Linked DNA regions of Homo sapiens: all the other regions are linked to region 1. The links come from fine-mapping of genetic effects on gene expression. A gene starts in region 1. Each other region holds a variant in brackets. All regions are shown on one strand. Distances are from middle to middle. Region 1 holds the start of POPDC1 (popeye domain cAMP effector 1). Region 2 overlaps POPDC1 (popeye domain cAMP effector 1). Region 3 overlaps POPDC1 (popeye domain cAMP effector 1).

Region 1 (2,763 bases):
TAAATTACCTATACTAGTAAAGTTTTGTTTATCGTTTTTCAAATAGGTGATTGTAGGGCTAAATAGCTAAATGCTGAAACTAACATTAAACCTCTACCAAACTAAAAAAATGAAAAAGATAACTGCAAACGAGCGTCTTGCTAGTCGAGTTAATTCATTCTGTAATTCTAACTGAATCTTCGCACATCTCCCGAATGGCAAATGGCATTACATTGCTAAGAGTCTTTTCGCACTTATTCATGCTTCAAAGCAGGCAGTTTCTGGGACTTGTCTGGCCAACAACCCGTTCCCAAAGGCTCGGGGAAGGAGGTTGCGGGTGGGTGGCGCGGACCTCGGGTCCCCAGCCATCGGCGCTCTCCCGGGGCCCTCTGACCTCGCTCCTTAAAGGAGGAGGGTCCGTGGCAACGGTCCTCCTCGGCCAGGCGCTCTCGGGACGCGGGGGTGAGGAGTGAGCGCCGTGGCCCACCCTACTCTCCGAGCGGGGACGGAGTGGGCGACACCGCGCGCCCGGCTGCACGCAGGCTCTGCGCGGCTCGAGGCGGCCCTACAGGGGGCGAGGAGGAACCCCGGAGACTCGGCGGAGAGAGCAGAGACGGAGCTCACCAAGGGGCTTGCCGCCGCAGAGCGCGGGAGCCGGCACTCGGTGGGGCCGAGGGCCCGGGGACGCTGGGGCTGCCTGACCTGAGCGGCGGCCGCTGACCGTTGAGGGTCTCTGTGGCCGCAGCGCCCAGACCCGGGGAGAAGGGCGGCCTCCAAGGGCCGGGAGCCCCTCGAGGGCGCGGCCAGCGAGGAGGGACAGAGGGCGGCGCCCCCGGCTGCCCGGGCGCGTAGAACAAGCAGCTGCCGCCAGGGCCGACAAAGTTGCTCCCCGAGGGGCTGAGATCCAACTTTCGCTTCCCGATTTAGCCAGGGGAGCGCGAGGCCGCACACAACCCGGCGCGGGGGGAAAGCCGGCTGCAGCTGCGCCTCCCATCCTTACCCGGCTGGTCCCTGGCGGGGAGCCTGGGCAGCGCCGACCAAAGTTCGGAGCGGCAGCTTCGGGGCGCGGGACGCGGGGCACACGGGCTCAGCTGCTCGACGGGAGCCCGACGCGCGCTCCTCGGCGGGTCGGCGGGTCCGGAAGCTCCGCTGCCCGGGCCGGGTCCCCAAGCCCGCAGCCGCTTTGACTAAAATAGGCATCGCGACGGCGGCGGCAGGCGGCGGCAGCCAGGGCTGGGGCCGCACCGCGCACGCGCATGCGCCCGCCGCCCCGCGCCCCCCGGCGGGCGGAGCCCGGCGCCGCGGCCAGGATTTCCCACCTCGCTCCCGCGACTCCGCTGCGGGTCTGCACACCCGAGGACTCGGTTTGAAACGCCCGCTTATTTATTTTCTTGTCGCCTCGCTACAAGATTCTATCCTTGTTTGGGCATGAGTGGGGGGCGGCAGTCTCGTGGGACCGGCGGCATTCGTCGTTCCTCCTTACGGGGATAATTCGAGAAGTGCGGTCCGGGTAGGGAGAGAAATCAGGAGAGAAAATGAGAAAGAGAATCCTCGTTTCCCCTCAAAGTTGGACGACCCACTCGTATATCTCCTTTTTGGGAGATTCGCCCATAACTCAGCACAAACAGGGAATAGCCCGGAAAGCGCGCGAGTTCCCGTCCGATTGTGGCGGGGGAGGCTGAACGTTTGGTCCACACGGGTGCAGGACGCGGGGGTCAGGCCTCCTGCTGCGGAGGAAGAGGGGGAAGAGGCCGCGCGGGAGGGACTTCTGACACGCGCCACTGTTTTTGTTTTCAAACAGGGGTACTTAACCGAAACTAGCAATCCCAGGCGGTACAAGGCCCTCCATCGTAGGCAAAGCACTACCTGAATGTAGATTTGGGCCATACGTTGGAAAATAAGACATGAGAGTATGCTCCGATCAACTTTTACTGTTCACTGGACAACTATTTTGGGTAAGAAAAGCAAGGAAACTTAATAAAGAATTGGCGTTGTTGGGAGTTGTCTTGTAGGACAATAGAGGAAGGTTAGATGGGTACCCAGTTTCCACCAAAAGTGTCCCATTATTGGTTAAAATTGGCATCAGTTATTAGATTATGAGATCGTTCATGCATGTGAAATGTGATCTCAATATAAAAAATACCACCACCGATTGTGTGAAGGTACATTATAAAGAGTACCTGGAGGTGCACACTGGACAAGTCTCTGGTTGAAGAGATGGTGCAGCCTAGTAAGAAAGAGCATGGGCCTTGATGTCACACAAGCCGGGTTTGAATACTCCCTCTCCTACCAGTTTACTGTGTGACCTTGGAGAAGTTACCTAGCCCTTCTGTGCCTCAGTTTCCTTTTTGGAACATGGGGATAATGATGATGATGATGATGATGATGATGATAATTATGATAATTGTACCTGCACTTCATAGTATAGTTTTGAGGACTAAATGGTGTAATTATATATAAGGGTCTTAAAATGGTGTTTGGGACATAAGTTCTATGTATATATATTGTATTTATAAAACTCCTTTTCTAATACGTCTGAACTTTCCTATAACCATAAAAGATTACTTTTTGAGATTACTTCTTTAGAGTCTGTTTCTTTCTAGATGCTCTGCCAGCCTTTTTTTTTTGAGGCAGAGTTTCACTCTTGTTGCCCAAGCTGGAGTGCAATGGCGCGATCTGGGCGCACTGCAACCTCCGCCCCCCGGGTTCAAGCGATTCTTCTGCCTCAGCCTCCCCAGTAGCTGGGATTACAGGTGTGCCCACGTCCCTACCAGCTGTTTTGAT
Region 2 (2,763 bases), 22 kb before region 1:
TATATGGCCTTGTAAATTCCAGCCTCTCCTGACTATGCAATACTTAAAATCCCTAATATAATTTATCTAAAGGCATACAAAGTTACAAATCATTTACATAAAGAATTGTTGAATGTGTTTGCATTTTTTAAAAGTTAATTTGGTTTAAAATACAATTGGAAATATGAATAGTTTTTAATTCATGCAATGGAAGAATGTCTGCCTTTTTGCTATTTCATATGAATTTGTTCAAAGTTTTTATACCATCATTCTTAGAATAATTCTTAAAGTATTTAATTCTTAATTTAGTTTTTCTCATTTTACTTACTAATTTTCAACATCTGGGTTATTTGTGTTACTTAAAATGTTTTGAAACAATCTAAACTATGGAAGAATACCGGAAAATGTGCCTCTTGGCAGGCGTGTGAATGAGGTAGCTCACAAGGGTGTTGAGTGATCTCCTTCATCTTTGGGAATAATCCATTTCTCAGTCACTTTTTAACTCACGGCACTCATACTGAGATAACCAGCCAGCAGCAGAACACCCAGCATTTATTTGTCTACCATTTAGTAAAACATTTCTGGGTCTAGGCTTTCACTCTAACTAAAGTCATGAAAGTAACAAAGCCAAATGGCAACAAAAACAAACAAAACCAAAGCAAAAAAATCAAACCATGTGGACTCTTAGAGTATTCTGGTGAGCCACTATTTTTTATTTTTGAGACGGAGTCTCGCTCTGTCGCCCAGGCTGGAGTGCAGTGGCGTGATCTCAACTCACTGCAAGCTCCGCCTCCCAGGTTCACGCCATTCTCCTGCCTCAGCCTCCCGAGTAGCCAGGACTACAGGCGCCTGCCACCAAGCCCGGCTAATTTTTTTTGTATTTTTAGTAGAGACGGGGTTTCACCGTATTAGTCAGGATGGTCTTGATCTCCTGACCTCGTGATCCGCCCGCCTCAGCCTCCCAAAGTGCTGATCTGCCCGCCTCAGCCTCCCAAAGTGCTGGGATTACAGGCGTAAGCCACCATGCCCAGCCAGTGAGCCACTATTTAAGCAAAGTATATGGCAAAACCAGTGAACAATTTCAATTTCTGAAACAGAAATAATAGTTCTAAAGTTGGCTTTTAGCTCATATGCAATATGGGGGAAATGCTAAACAAAATTTGATTGTTTTTATTGTTACCTTTAGGTTGCCTTTCAAATAGTTACCTGCAAAGTTATTTTTCTAATCAAAGTTGTCATTTGTCTATGTCCAGAGATACCCATCAGAACTCTGGAGTAGTATCAGTTTTGGGATAACTTACGAAGAGAGGACATGCTGGAGGTACCCCGAAGAAACTGGTGCAAGCCGTCGTCACTGTCACTGGAGCTGGCTATACTGTTCCTCATTTCCAACATGGAGATCTGTGTGCAGAGGCTGAGCTGATGTTCCAGCTTTTTGGCTTTCTACAAAGCAAAGTTTTAAGCTTTCTGAGAATTATGGGAGTTGAATCATACATTCCATTTAAGCAGCATGTACTTTTCCTAGAAATACGTTAGTGCATTTAAAAAAAAGAATACCTGATACATATTAGGTGGCCAATAAACATAAGCTATGATTTTTATTATTAGCTATTACTATAAATATATTATA[C/A]AAAATCAAATATACTTAGTAGCCTATTTATAATAAGCTAAATAATTAACTGAAATAAGCACCAGCTTAATTTGATAAACAGTCCAGATAAGATGATTTTGAAAGGGCACATATACTCAATTGTCACTGGGTAACAGTACTTATCACAGAAACGACGTTTTTAAAAATTCTCTCTTGTAATCATTTTAATTTCTTTCTAAAAAGATACGGGAAAATTAAGATCAAATTGCAAATTGCTGAAGATCTATGCAGCTCTACACCTCTCCTTTCACTTTCTCGCCTGACCTGAAGATATGCAAGACTGGAAGACAGCAGGGTTCAAAGGCCAACTTCCTGATCGCTGGGGTCTGTCAGCCTTTCTCTGTCTGCAAACCTCCAGCTGCCCTGTCCTCCCTAACTTACTCCATCCTCCACCCCCTCTTACTCCTTTACCATCTTCCTTAAAATGCTCTTGATGAAGAGGGTGCCTTATCACCATAAATGCTAGTCCCTGACAATTGTAGACTCCTTACTAAGTAACAGCAAATCTAATCATTACAAAATACTTTCTCCTCTCAAGATTACAAGTATCCCCAGTACATTTAACATATGGCTAGTTACTAAAAATTCAGGAAAACATATTTCATAAAGTGAAATATACCTCATATACATATTTATTTAACAAAATAAACTCAGAGAACACTTACTTTATCATTTAAGGTGGGATCATTCAATGAGTAGAGCTTATTTGTGATGTCTTTTCCAATAAGATACCTAAAGATTTCATACAAGAAAGGTTCTGATTCCAGAAAGTATGTTAATCTTTCTCTTGACCAGCATAAAAATCTGCAGTTATCATCTGCAATAATGGTGACCTGCCAAAGAAACAAGCATGCAAAGAATAAAGTACATCTATGTATATGAATTATGACTATAGTGATTTAGAAAACTAGGAATGATTTAGTGGACATTATCATAGCAATGATTTGTCAAATTATAAAAAAAAGGAGACTCAATGCACACAAGCTTCTACACGTATAAAATTATGTTTTTTAAAAAAGCAATCTGCAGACTAAATAAAAGCAAATTCTCTGTGTTTCCTTGTTGTTTTGTTTTGTGAGGTCTGGTGACAGAAGAATGGCCACTGTATTGATACCGCTGCTGGAGCATGTATT
Region 3 (2,746 bases), 38 kb before region 1:
GTGGCTCTTTTAAGATTCCTAATCTTGAGGTTACAATCTTCACATTGAGACACTGATACACACACATACTTTAATAAAAACAGCAAATGGTCTTATATCACCTACTTTTAGCAGTGTGCTTTTAAAACAGGTTTGTTCCCAGCATTACAGAAAATAATCTCCAAACACATGCATTACTTTCTACTCAGGGAAGGATGTTACATCTAATGACTGTATAGAGTGATTTTGTAAATTAGTCTTATGCGCGTGTAAACTAAATGGGCTGCCCAACTTAACCCCAATGGTTAAAGGAAAGTAGTCTCGGCACTATGACATCACAGTTACACCTGTGCTCTCAGGTACAGGGCGAAAGTGAGAGCGAGAGCGCACGAGAGAGTTCAACCTGAGAGAGCTTTATAATTTCAAGCCTAGGCTGTCATTCACCTTTGCTTCATTTCTCCAAAACAAGCTCCTAATTTAGCTACCTGAAGAGACTGCTGCAGCAGTACAGTGAAAGCAGCCTTTTTTTGAAATAGGGTCTCACTCTGTTGCCCAGGCTGGAGTGCAGTGGTGTGATCTGTGCTCACTGCAACCTCAACCTCCCAGGTTCAAGTGAACCTCCCACCTCAGCCTTCTGAGTAGCTGGGACTACAGGTATGTACCACCACACCCAGCTAATTTTTTTTGTAGAGATGGGGTTTAGCCATGTTGCCCAGGCTGGTCTTGAACTCCTGGGCTTAAGCAATCCACCCACCTTGGCCCCCCAAAGTGCTGTGATTACATGTGTGAGCCACTGTGTCCAGTCGACAGTAGCCTTTTTACTGTGATGTCAATAAACCAACATCTGAAGATGACAGGAACTGGATTCAGAGTCTGTGTAAATTTTCTCAATGAGTGACCGAGCATGTAAATTTAACTCAAATGAAATTACTACAATAATTGCTTTAAAAACATATTTAGGAAAATGAGGTGACCCTAGATGAGCTTATTTATATGTCTCCTCTAACAGAAATCACCTCATGGTAAGAGTTGCTTCTTTTGGCTCAGTTCACCTGAGAACAACTTCATTTGGAACTTTTCTTAGCCATTTAACGTAACAGGAGACTGACTCAAAGTTGGTTCTAGTGGATGAAGCAAAATAGACATGACCAGCATGGCCAATCAATGAGCTTCATTCAACGGAGCGTCCTGGCCAAGTGCCACAGCCACGCTGGCCAGACACACTGACCAGTTACGCATTTCCCACCAGCCAAATGCCACTGTTTACTAAACCATGATTTCAGTAGGAAAAAGAGCTCTGGAATCAAGGCCCTCACTGCAGTACCTGGGTGGGGTGTCCATGGCCTGGCCTGTAGTAAACCCTCTGCCTTCCACTGTGTTCACGTTCGCAGCTCTGGCACTGGGGCATCTGGCACTTTTTTAAAAGAGATGTCTCTGCCTCTAGATGAACAATCTGGAACTTCAGAATACAGATCAAAGAATGAAGCAGATCTTTCAGTGGCCTCATCCTGTGG[C/T]ACCTGCCCAGCCATTTAACTCCCCTGTCCTCCCACCCTACATAAAGTGTTTCCCACACCAGAGTGTGCACAACATGGTGACTCCAAATCCCAAGGAAGTTGAGTTTAGCTGGAGGTTAACCCCGTGCTCAGAAACCCATCTGTTATCTTTCCAGCTTCAGGTTTCAGAGCAGTTTATAAATGGCATAATACAAGGGTAATGTGAGTAAAATCTGAGAGTTTTGTTCATTATCAAGTTATCCACACAGTGCCCAATTAAGTAAGGTGATCTAGTGGAGTAATACTTCTGGCCTGGGAGAAAAATAAAACCAGTCAAATCACACCTTTCTCTAAAATGTCCCATTAAAAAAATATGGAATAGGCCGGGCGCGGTGGCTCACGCCTGTAATCCCAGCACTCTGGGAGGCCAAGGTGGGCGGATCACGAGGTCAGGAGATCGAGACCATCCTGGCTAACACAGTGAAACCCCATCTCTACTAAAAATACAAAAAAATTAGCTGGGCGCGGTGGCAGGTGCCTGTAGTCCCAGCTACTCGGGAGGCTGAGGCAGGAGAGTGGCGTGAATCCAGGAGGTGGAGTTTGCAGTGAGCTGAGAATGTGCCACTACACTCCAGCCTGGGCGACAGAGTGAAACTCCATCTCAAAAAAAAAAAAAATTATATGTATGTGTGTATGTATATATATGTATATATATATATATATGTATGTATGTATGTGTGTGTGTGTGTGTGTGTGTGTGTGTGTATATATGGAATAAAGTTTGAGATTCCCTGCTTTTTCATGTTACCTTAGCCTCAATTTTAAACTTACATTGTTTGTTAAAATTATCAAATGGACAACCTCATTGCTATGGAACAAAAAAGACTGTGAGGAAAAAGAATCATAACTTGGAAAAAAATAAGTGAAAAGGCATTGAGAGATTGCTAAGATTTGTTAAGTTAAAACAATAATATATCTAGAAAAGACTGTGAAAATATATATCTCAAAAGAGAACAAGGCATAGTCAGAAGGCTCAGTAAAACAATTACTTTAAAAGCTGACTAATAAAAAGGGTAAGTGAAAGAACTCTTCCATCCTTGACCCTTCCTCACTTCCTCCCTCCGACTCCACCAGTCTGGATGCACTAAAGCAGAATAACCTAAAAGCCATGAAAAAGTGCTGGTATTTTTCAGGATCTCTTCAAGACACCTTCCGTCTTGGTAACCTGAATTCTCTCTCTGATCAAGGCAGCTGATGGACTTTCAATGTATTTG

What was found. PIP is the estimated chance that this variant, and not a neighbour inherited with it, causes the effect.
Region 2: its variant is the best candidate, but not a certain one, in a credible set for the expression of POPDC1 in tibial artery (GTEx, PIP 0.65).
Region 3: its variant is the best candidate, but not a certain one, in a credible set for the expression of POPDC1 in esophagus muscle (GTEx, PIP 0.78).

What each region holds. Positions count from the first base shown.
Region 1 is chr6:105,135,990-105,138,752 of GRCh38, forward strand. It overlaps POPDC1 (popeye domain cAMP effector 1), which reads right to left and starts at 1,168. Exons shown (of 8, transcript NM_001199563.2): 1 at 980-1,168. It overlaps POPDC1-AS1 (POPDC1 antisense RNA 1), which reads left to right and starts at 1,698. Exons shown (of 4, transcript NR_037157.1): 1 at 1,698-1,934. RefSeq lists silencers at 967-1,086, 1,097-1,206.
Region 2 is chr6:105,114,406-105,117,168 of GRCh38, forward strand. It overlaps POPDC1 (popeye domain cAMP effector 1), which reads right to left. Exons shown (of 8, transcript NM_001199563.2): 6 at 2,296-2,463; 7 at 1,281-1,422. Among named protein-coding and RNA genes, the nearest start is that of POPDC1, 21 kb to the right of the region's middle. The variant C/A (reference allele first, on the strand shown) is at 1,610.
Region 3 is chr6:105,098,375-105,101,120 of GRCh38, forward strand. POPDC1 (popeye domain cAMP effector 1) reads right to left here. Exons shown (of 8, transcript NM_001199563.2): 8 at 1-2,746. The coding sequence ends at 2,715. Among named protein-coding and RNA genes, the nearest start is that of POPDC1, 37 kb to the right of the region's middle. The variant C/T (reference allele first, on the strand shown) is at 1,494.